Homo sapiens: one gene and its partners. The protein of the gene in region 1 interacts with the protein of each later gene in a pairwise test. Each region holds a gene or a part of one and is shown on either strand. Other genes may lie near its edges. The genes, in order: SH3GLB2, EFHC1 and KRTAP5-11.

Evidence for each region.
Region 2: the proteins of SH3GLB2 (region 1) and EFHC1 interact in binary tests that used the Homo sapiens proteins (3 or more experiments, as listed by UniProt).
Region 3: the proteins of SH3GLB2 (region 1) and KRTAP5-11 interact in binary tests that used the Homo sapiens proteins (3 or more experiments, as listed by UniProt).

The regions. Positions count from the first base shown.
Region 1 is NC_000009.12:129,018,217-129,021,868, reverse strand, and holds part of SH3GLB2 (endophilin-B2), read left to right. Parts: intron 1-649; coding exon 650-778; intron 779-3,652.
Region 2 is NC_000006.12:52,440,792-52,444,443, forward strand, and holds part of EFHC1 (EF-hand domain-containing protein 1), read left to right. Parts: intron 1-3,652. UniProt on the Homo sapiens protein: Microtubule inner protein (MIP) part of the dynein-decorated doublet microtubules (DMTs) in cilia axoneme, which is required for motile cilia beating.
Region 3 is NC_000011.10:71,581,302-71,584,474, forward strand, and holds KRTAP5-11 (keratin-associated protein 5-11), read right to left. Parts: upstream 1,575-3,173; 5' UTR 1,537-1,574; coding exon 1,066-1,536; 3' UTR 554-1,065; downstream 1-553.

The DNA of each region.
Region 1 (3,652 bases):
TCCTGCCTCAGCCTCCTGAATAGCTGGGACTACAGGCACATGCCACCACGCCCAGCTAATTTTTGTATTTTTAGTAGAGAAGGGGTTTCACCATGTTGGCCAGGCTGGTCTTGAACTCCTGACCTCAAATGATCCACCCGCCTTGGCCTCCCAAAGTGCTGGGATTATAGGCAGGAGCCACCGTGTCCGTCCCAACCTGGTCACTTTCAAGAGGTCAGCAAGGCCCAGAGATGAAGGGACTGCCCGGAGCACACCCAGGCAGGCCCCCAAGGTCAAGCAGAAGCGACCTGCAGGACTTCCGGGGAAAGGAGGGTGGCTCCGGGTCGTGCTGTGTGTCTGCCTGTAAATCTGCTCTGTGGCTCATTGAGGGGCCAGATAACTTTTGGGTGCCAGGAGCAGAGAATTGTGCAAGCATGTATTATGGTCTGTAATCATATTAATAAGGGAGAAGTGGACGGGCCCTGGCTTCCTCCTCTGTATAGTGCTGGGTCAATCACAACAGTCTCAGGGTTGGGCATGAGCAAGAGCGTATTCTGGAAGTCAGCAGGCCAGGTGCACCTGTGGGCAGGGCCGGGTCTGGGTCTGTTTCTGTTTCATTTTTGGGCTTGAACTAAGGAGCCCTGTGGCTTTGGCTGCTGTCTCCCCACAGGTGCCCGAGTGGAGGAGTTCCTGTATGAGAAGCTGGACAGGAAGGTCCCCTCAAGGGTCACCAACGGGGAGCTGCTGGCTCAGTACATGGCAGACGCGGCCAGTGAGCTGGGGCCGACCACCCCCTATGGTGAGCAGGCCTCACAGCCAGGGACTAGGGGTCATGGTCTTTAGCTCTGATTCTCCCTCCCTCCCTTCCTTTTTTTTACTTAAAAAAATAATTATACAAATAATACCTGAATTCATTCTAAATGTAAAAACTCTACGCAGAAAAAAAGAGTAAAAAATGGAATCTTCTCTTAACCAGTTTTGGTTTGTGTGTGTGTGTGTGTTTTGTTTTTGTTTTTTTTTGAGATGGAGTCTCGCTCTGTCGCCCAGGCTAGAGTGCAGTGGCGTGATCTCGGCTCACTGCAAGCTCCACCTCCTGGGTTCCCGCCGTTCTCCTGCCTCAGCCTCCCAAGTAGCTGGGACTACAGGCGCCCGTGACCACGCCTGGCTAATTTTTTTTGTATTTTTTAGTAGAGACGAGGTTTCACCATGTTAGCCAGGATGGTCTCGATCTCCTGACCTCGTGATCTGCCCGCCTATGCCTCGAAAACTGCTGGGATTACAGGCGTGAGCCACCGCGCCCGGCCTATTTTTTTTTTTTTGAGACACAGTTTCACTCCATCACCCAGGCTGGAGTGCGGTGGTGCGATCTCAGCTCACTGCAACGCCCCTGCCTCCCAGGTTCAAGTGATTCTCCTGCCTCAGCCTCCCGAGTAGCTGGGACTACAGGAGCCCGCCACCACACCCAGCTAATTTTTGTGTTTTTAGTAGAGGCAGGGTTTCACCATGTTGACCAGGCTGTTCTCAAACTCCTGACCTCAAGTGATCCGCCTGCCTCAGCCTCCCAAAGTGCTGGGATTACAGGTGTGAGCCACCGCACCTGGCCTATTTGTGTGTATTTTTTAATGGAATCATATTGTGTGCTATCTGGGAACCTGACTTTTTTTTTTTTTTTTTTTTTTTTTTGGAGATGGAGTTTTGCTCTGTTGTCCGGGCTGGAGTGCAGTGGCGCAATCTCAGCTCACTGCAACCTCCGCCTCCTGGGTTCAAGCAATTCTCCTGCCTCAGCCTCCCAAGTAGCTGGGATTCCATGTGCCCACCAGCACACCTGGCTAACTTTTTTGTATTTTTAGTAGAGACGGTGTTTTACCATGTTGGCCAGGCTGGTTTCCAACTCCTGACCTCAAGTGATCTGCCCGCCATGGCCTCCCAAAGTGCTGGGATTACGGGCATGAGCCACCGCACCCGGCTGGAACCTGACTTTTTAACTTGACATCATATTACAGGTATCTTTTCACTGAAGCATTTATAGAACCATATCCATCTTTTTTTTTTCATTTTAAAATTTTATCCAAGTATAAGCTATATATTATGTGTTTAAGTGTATAATTCAATGATTTTTAGTAAATTTACAGAGTTGTACAAACATCTCCACAATCTAACTTTTTTTTTTTTTTTTTTTTTGAGGCAGAGTCTCACTCTGTCACCCAGGCTGGAGTGCGGTGGCGCAATCTCAGCTCACTGCAACCTCTGCCTCCTGGGTTCAAGCATCCCGGGTCCTCCCTCAGCTACCCAAGGAGCTAGGATTGCACACGCCCACCACCACTCCCAGCTAATTTTTGTATTTTTAGCAGAGACCGGGTTTCACCATGTTATCCAGGCAGGTCTCGATCTCCTGACCTCCGGTGATCCACCCGCCTCAGCCTCCCAAAGTGCTGGGATAACAGGCGTGAGCAACTGCGCCCAGCCAAACTTATTTATTTTTTATTTTCTGTTACCTTTTTTGAGACAGGGTCTGGCTCTGTCCCCCAGGCTGGATTGCAGTGGTGCAATCTCAGCTCACTGCAACCTCTGCCTTTTGGGCTGAAGGCATCCTTCCACCTCAGCCTCCTGATTAGCTGGGATTACAGGTGTCCACCACCATGCCCTTCTAATTTTTATATTTTTCTGTAGAGATGGGGATCTCGCTATGTTGCCCAGGCTGATCTCAAACTCCTAAGCTGAAGTGACCTCCCACCTTGGCCTCCCAAAGTGCTGGGATTACAGGAGTGTGCCACCGTGCCCGGCCCACAGTCTAATTTAAAGAACATTTCCATCACACCCCAAAAGTCCTTCATGTCTATTGTCAAGCCCCATTTTCACCTCCAGCCAGCCAACCACTAACGTGTTTTCGGTCCCTATAAGTTCATTTTTTCTGAACATTTTATATAAATGGAATCATATGACATGTTGTTTCTTGCATTTAGCTGCTTTTACCTAACATAATTTTTTTTTTTTTTTTGAGATGGAGTCTCACTCTGTCACCCAGGCTGGAGTGCAGTGGCACAATCTCGACTCACTGCAAGCTCCTCCTCCCGGGTTCATGCCATTCTCCTGCCTCAGCCTCCCGAGTAGCTGGACTACAGGCGCCTGCCACCACGCTCGGCTAATTTTTTGTATTTTTAGTAGAGATGAGGTTTCACCATCTTGGCCAGGCTGGTCTTGAACTCCTGACCTCGTGATCCACCCGCCTCGGCCTCCCAAAGTGCTGGGATTACAGGCATAGCCACTGTGCCTGGCCTCAGGTAAATTTAACTTAACTCTTTTTTTTTTTTTTGAGACGGAGTCTCTCTCTGTCACCTAGGCTGGAGTGCAGTGGCGCAATCTTGGCTCACTGCAACCTCCGCCTCCTGGGTTCAAGCAATTCTCTTGCCTCAGCCTTCCAAGTCGCTGGGATTACAGGCACCCGCCACCATGCCCAGCTAATTTTTTGTGTTTTTAGTAGAGACGGGGTCTCACCATGTTGGCCAGGCTGGTCTTGAACTCCTGACCTTGTGATCCGCCCGCCTTGGCCTCCCAAAGTGCTGGGATTACAGGCGTGAGCCACTGCGCCCAGCCAATTTAATTTAACTTTTTAAGAAGTTGCCAAACTGTTTTCCAAAGTAGCTGTATGATTTTTTTATTCCTGTCAGTAGTG
Region 2 (3,652 bases), on another chromosome or scaffold:
CACCTGTTATTTTTTTACTTTTTAATAATAGCCATTCTGACTGGTGTGAGATGATATTTCATTGTGGTTTTGATTTGCATTTCTCTAATGATAGTGATGTTGAGCTTTTTTTTCATATGGTTATTGGCCATGTGTATGTCTTCTTTTGAGAAGTGTCTGTTCATGTCCTTTGCCCACTTTTTAATGGGGTTCTTTGCTTTTTTTCTTGTAAATTAAAGTTTCTTATAGATGGTGCATATTGGACCTTTGTCAGATGCATAGTTTGCAAATATTTCTTTCCCATTCTTTAGATAGTCTTTTTACTCTGTTGATGCTTTCTTTTGCTCTGCGGAAGCTCTTACGTTTAATTAGATACCATTTGTCAATTTTTGCTTTTGTTGTGATTGCTTTTGGTGTCTTTGTCATGAAATCTTTGCCCATTCCTATGTTTAGAATAGTGTTGCCTTGGTTGTCTTCCAGGGTGTTTATAGTTTTGGGTTTTACATTTAAGTCTTTTATCTATCTTGAGTTGATTTTTATATCTGGTGTAAGATATATGGCTAGCATATGGCTAGCAGGTTATCCCAGCACCTTTCCCCATTGCTTATTTTTGTCAACTTTGTTGAAGATCACATAATTATAGGTGTGTAGCCTTATTTCTGAGCTCCCTATTCTATTCCATTGGTCTATGTGTCTGTTTTTGTACCAGTACTGTACTGTTTTGGTTACTGTAGCCCTGTAGTATAGTTTGAAGGCAGGTAACATGATGCCTCCAGCTTTGTTCTTTTGCTTAGAATTGCCTTGACTATTCAGGCTCTTTTTGGGTACCATTGAATTTTAAAGTATTTTTTTCTAGTTCTGTGAAGAGTGTCACTGGCAATTTGATAGGAATAGCATTGAATCTGTACATTGCTTTGGGCAGTATGGTGACTGTAAAGATATTGATTTTTCGTATCCATGAGCATGTAATGTTTTTTCATTTGCTTGTGTTATCTCTGATTTCCTTAAGCAGTGTTTTGTAATTCTCATTGTAGAGATCTTTCATCTCCCTGGTTAGCTGTATTCCTAGGTATCTTATTCTTTTTGTGACAGTTGTAAATGGGATTGTGTTCCTGATTTTACTCTCAGCTTGGCTGTTGTTGGTGTATAGGAGTGCTAGTGATTTTTGTATGTTGATTTTGTGTCCTAAAATTTTGCCGAAGTTGTTTATTAACTTAAGGAGTTTTTGGGATGAGGCTCTGGAGTTTTCTAGATATAGAATCATGTTTTCTCCAAACAGGGATAGTTTGACTTTCTCTCTTCCTACTTGGATGTCCTTCATTTCTTTCTCTTGACTGATTGTTCTGGCCAAGACTTCCAATATTGTCTTGGATAGAAGTTGTGGAAGAGGGCATCCTTTTCTTGTGTCAGTTTTCAAGAGGAATGCTTCCAGCTTTTCCCTGTTCAATATAATGTTGGCTGTGGGTTTTTCATAGATGGCTCTGATTATTTTGAGGTGTGTTCCTTTAATACCTAGTTTATTTATTTATTTATTTTATTATTATACTTTAAGTTATGGGGTACATGCGCACAACGTGCAGGTTTGTTGCATATGTATACATGTGCCATGTTGGTGTGCTGTACCCATTAATTTGTCATTCAATTAGGTATATCTCCTAGTGGTATCCCTCCCCACACCCCCCACCCTATGACAGGCCCCAGTATGTGATGTTCCCCACCCTGTGTCCAAGTGTTCTCATTGTTCAATTCCCACCTATGAGTGAGAATATGCAGTGTTTGGTTTTCTGTCCTTGCGATAGTTTGCTCAGAATGATGGTTTCCAGCTTCATCCATGTCCCTACAAAGGACATGAGCTCATCATTTTTTATGGCTGCATAGTATTCCATGGTGTATATGTGCCACATTTTCTTAATCCAGTCTATCATTGTTGGACATTTGGGTTGGTTCCAAGTCTTTGCTATTGTGAATAGTGCCGCAATAAACATATGTGTGCATGTGACTTTATAGCAGCATGATTTATAATCCTTTGGGTATATGCCCAGTAATGGGATGGCTGGGTCATATGGTATTTCTTGTTCTGGATCCTTGAGGAATCACCACACTGTCTTCCACAATGGTTGAATTAGTTTACATTCCCACCAACAGTGTAAAAGCATTCCTATTTCTCCACATCCTCTCCAGCACCTGTTGTTTCCTGACTTTTTAATGATCTCCATGCTAACTGGCATGAGATGTGTGGTTTTGATTTGCATTTCTCTGATGGCCAGTGATGATGAGCATTTTTTCACGTATCTGTTGGCTGCATAAATGTCTTCTTTTGAGAAGTGTCTGTTCATATCCTTCGCCCACTTTTTGATGGGGTTGTTTTATTTTTTCTTGTAAATTTGTTTAAGTTCTTTGTAGATTCTGGATATTAGCCCTTTGTCAGATGGGTAGATTGTAAAAATTTTCTCCCATTCTGTAGGTTGCCTGTTCACTCAGATGGTAGTTTATTTTGCTGTGCAGAAGCTCTTTAGTTTAATTACATCCCATTGGTCAATTTTGGCTTTTGTTGCCATTGCTTTTGGTGTTTTAGTCATGAAGTCCTTGCCCATGCCTATGTCCTGAATGGTATTACCTAGGTTTTCTTCTAGGGTGTTTATGGTTTTAGGTCTAACATTTAAGTCTTTAATCCATCTTGAATTAATTTTTGTATAAGGTGTAAGGAAGGGATCCAGTTTCAGCTTTCTACATATGGCTAGCCAGTTTTCCCAGCACCATTTATTAAATAGGGAATCCTTTCCCCATTGCTTGTTTTTCTCAGGTTTGTCAAAGATCAGATGGTTGTAGATGTGTGGTATTATTTCCGAGGGCTCTGTTCTGTTCCATTGGTCTATATCTCTGTTTTGGTACCAGTACCATGTTGTTTTGGTTACTGTAGCCTTGTACTATAGTTTGAAGTCAGGTAGCGTGATGCCTCCAGCTTTGTTCTTTTGGCTTAGGATTGTCTTGGCAATGCAGACTCTTTTTTGGTTCCATATGAACTTTAAAGTAATTTTTTCCAATTCTGTGAAGAAAGTCATTGGTAGCTTGATGGGGATGGCATTGAGTCTATAAATTACCTTGTGCAGTATGGCCATTTTCACAATATTGATTCTTCCTACCCATGAGTATGGAATGTTCTTCCATTTGTTTGTGTCCTCTTTTATTTCATTGAGCAGTGGTTTGTAGTTCTCCTTGAAGAGGTCCTTCATGTCCCTTGTAAGTTGGATTCCTAGGCATTTTATTCTCTTTGAAGCAATTGTGAATGGGAGTTCACTCATGATTTGGCTCTCTGTTTGTCTGTTATTGGTGTATAAGAATGCTTGTGATTTTCGCACATTGATTTTGTATCCTGAGACTTTGCTGAAGTTGCTTATCAGCTTAAGGAGATTTTGGGCTGAGAGGATAGGGTTTTCTAAATATACAATCATGTCATCTGCAAACAGGAACAATTTGACTTCCTCTTTTCCTAATTGAATACCCTTTATTTCTTTCTCTTGCCTGATTGCCCTGGCCAGAACTTCCAACACTCTGTTGAATAGGAGTGGTGAGAGAGGGCATCCCTGTCTTGTGCCAGTTTTCAAAGGGAATGCTTCCAGTTTTTGCCCATTCAGTATGATATTGGCTGTGGGTTTGTCATAAATAGCTCTTA
Region 3 (3,173 bases), on another chromosome or scaffold:
GGTCCCCAAATGTGTCACTTCCCAGGAACTCTCCTTTCCTGCCGGGAGACTGAGCTCCGAGGACACCTTGGGCCATTCTGTAACTTCCTGGTTACCTTTAGTTATGGAAAGCCGTTGACCTCATAATTGTAAAAGGCTAATTGAGTGTTTGAATCAGAGTGCGTTGGAGCTCAGCGGTGCTTCACTCCTCCCTCCTCCGACCTTGCCCTGCCTGGGTCCTTCCAAGGCCCCAGAGGAGAGCGGGAAGCTGGAAGCCATGGGTCTTGTGCAAAGCCCTGCTTGGCTGGTCATCAGGACTCAGGGCCCGCCTGCCCCTCTGCGCCTCTAGGGTGGGCATTGAATACCGAATCCTCCCCAGGCTGAGCCCTCTTCTTCTGCAAGCAGAGAGAGTGAAGATATTTGAGGCCGCGTGGAAGGCAGAAGTGAACTTCGTGGTTCTTTTTGAATGCACCAAGCCTGCTGGCAGGCATTTCCCAGCTTAGCTGACAAATTAGAACACAGAATCAGTCACCACACAGGAAAGGGGTTAGACAGAATTGCACCAAGTGTACAGTTGGTTTACAGACATGAGAGGCTTTATTGCAAGGAAATTCATTCATTTTTTTTTTAAATAGATGGAGACAACAGGAAGGAAGGAGACCTTCTTGCTCACAGGTGGGTCACAGGAGAACAGGCAGCAGCCCAGGAGGACCCAGAATCCCAGTGGTGGTTGAGAAACTGGTTCTTAGTGATCACTCAGGAATGTCGGCCTGGCCTTGTGGGGTCAGACCTAGCATCTCAGTCAGCCCAGGGAGAAGAAGAAGATGGTCCACACCCAAGTGCAGGGAACACCATGGCGTCCAGGGAAGAACACCTCCTGCATCAAGGAAACACATGTTTCCGGAGTGAGGAAGCTGAAGGCAGGGCCTAGAGGAGAGCCGAGCCATGGAAAGAGGTGCATGCATGGATGATGAGCTAGAGCAGGTGCAGGTGCCTCAGGATGATGTGTGGGATGAACTGATTCAGAGAAACCATAAGAAATGCTTTCACCAAAGAGGAGAAACCTGAAGGTCTGGGTCCAGAGCCTCAGATCTTACACTGGCAGCACACGGGGACACAGCAGCTGGACTGGCAGCAGCAGGGCTTGAAGCAGCTAGACTGGCAGCAGCTGGATTGGCAGCAGCAGGGCTTGCAGCAGCTGGACTGGCAGCAGCTGGATTGGCAGCAGCAGGGTTTGGAGCAGCTGGACTGGCAGCAGAATGACCCACAGCCTGAGGAGGAGCAGCAGGGCTTACAGCAGTTGGACTGGGAGCAGCCACAAGAACCACACCCACCCTTGGAGCTCCCACAAGAGCCACAGCCCCCTTTGGAGCCCCCACAGGAGCCACAGCTGGAGCAGGAACAGGCTGGCACACAGCAGCACACAGGCTTGCAGCAGCAAATGGGCACACAGCAGCTGGAGCCACAGCCCCCACAGCCAGAGCCACAGCCCCCACTGCCGGAGCCACAGCCCCCACAGCCAGAGCCACAGCCTCCAGAACAGCCACAGCAGCCCATGATTCTGGCGGATTGAGAGTAGAGCAGGTAGAGGAGCAGGTGAGAGGGAGGTGCAGGTGTGGAGCCCCCTGAGCCTGGGCTCTTTATATACCTGTCCAGAGGTCAGGGAGGACGCAGGGTCCTTTCCTTGTGACTGTTTACACTATTTTTCCAGAGCTCTATTTTTTTCCTCTTTGCTAGTGACTTCCTCCTGGCTCAGTTGAGCATCTACTTTCTTTGTTTTCTAAATTTGTCTTCTTCCCCATTTGTTTTGGCCCCTACAATTAAAACCTCAGCTCCAGGCTGGTCTGGTGCTTCCCGCAAAGTTCCAGGGTGCTGGTCACCCGCTCTCTGCTGACCACATGTGACCAATGGGCAACAGCCTCTGCCCACATGCTCTCATCTTCCCTGTCTATCCCTCCAGATAATATTAATTTTATGTTTTTAGATTTCAAAATTCACCCATGGTCTTTATAGGAAACACAAGTAAAGAAGAAAACAAATTCTTTATTATCATGTATCCTGGAGATGGATTTGGTAGATTTCTGCAAGCATAATATTAATATAAATATTCATGCATATTATATTAAGTAATATTTTACTCATGCCAGTCTCAGTTTTCTGGGTGTGTTAGACCGTTCTTTGCATTGTGTAAAGAAATACTTGAGGCTGGGTAATTTATAAAGGAAAGAGGTTAGAATGGCCATGGTTCTGCAGGCTGCACAAGCATTGCACCCATCTCCGCTCGGCTTCTGGGCAAGCCCTCAGGGAGCTTTTCCTCATGGTGGAAGGTGAAGCAGGAGCAGGCACGCCACATGGTGAGAATGGGAGCAAGGGGTGAGGAGGGGCCACACACTTGTGAACAACCAGATCTGAGTGAACGCACTCATCACCAAGGGGATAGCGCTAAACCATTCATGAGGGATCCGCCCCCATAATTCAAACATCTCCTATCCCGCCCCACCAATGTGAGAGTTGGAGGGGACATCCAAATTGTATCAGTGGAGATCCTTTTTTTTTTTTTTTTTTTCTTTTTTTGAGACAAGGTCTTGCTCTGACACCCAGCCTGGAGTGCAGTGGCATGATCATAGCTCACTGCAGCCTCTAACTCCTGGGCTTAAAGAATTCTCCTTCCTTAGCCTCCTGAGTAGCTGGGACTATAGATGTGTGTCATCATACCCAGCTAATTTTTAAATTTTTTGTAGAGATGGGGTCTTGCCAAGTTGCCCTGGCTGGTCTCAAACTCCTTGTCTGCAGTGATCTTCCTGCCTTGGTCTTCCAAAGTGTTGGGATTACAGGCATAAGCCACCATGCTCAGCCAATTTTTTTTTCCTTTACGGTCCAAATAACAATAATATAATCTCATTTTGGTGTTTGCAGGGAATCTCTTCCTCTACTCAAGCATTTCTGAAAATCCCACAAATCTCTCTGCTGTTGTTTTCTCTCTTCCCCATTTACAGTGTTCACTCCTCTTAGGCTGCTTCTTCCAGTTGCCCACTTTTGTTCCCTGCTCAGTTTTACTCCAGGTGGGAAAGAGAGATTTCTCTATGCCATGGTCTGCATGTGTCCCCCAACATTCATGTGTTGGAAACATCATCCCCAATGCAAGAGTGTTGTGAGGTGGGTCCTAAAGGGAAGTGCTTGTAATGGATTAGTAT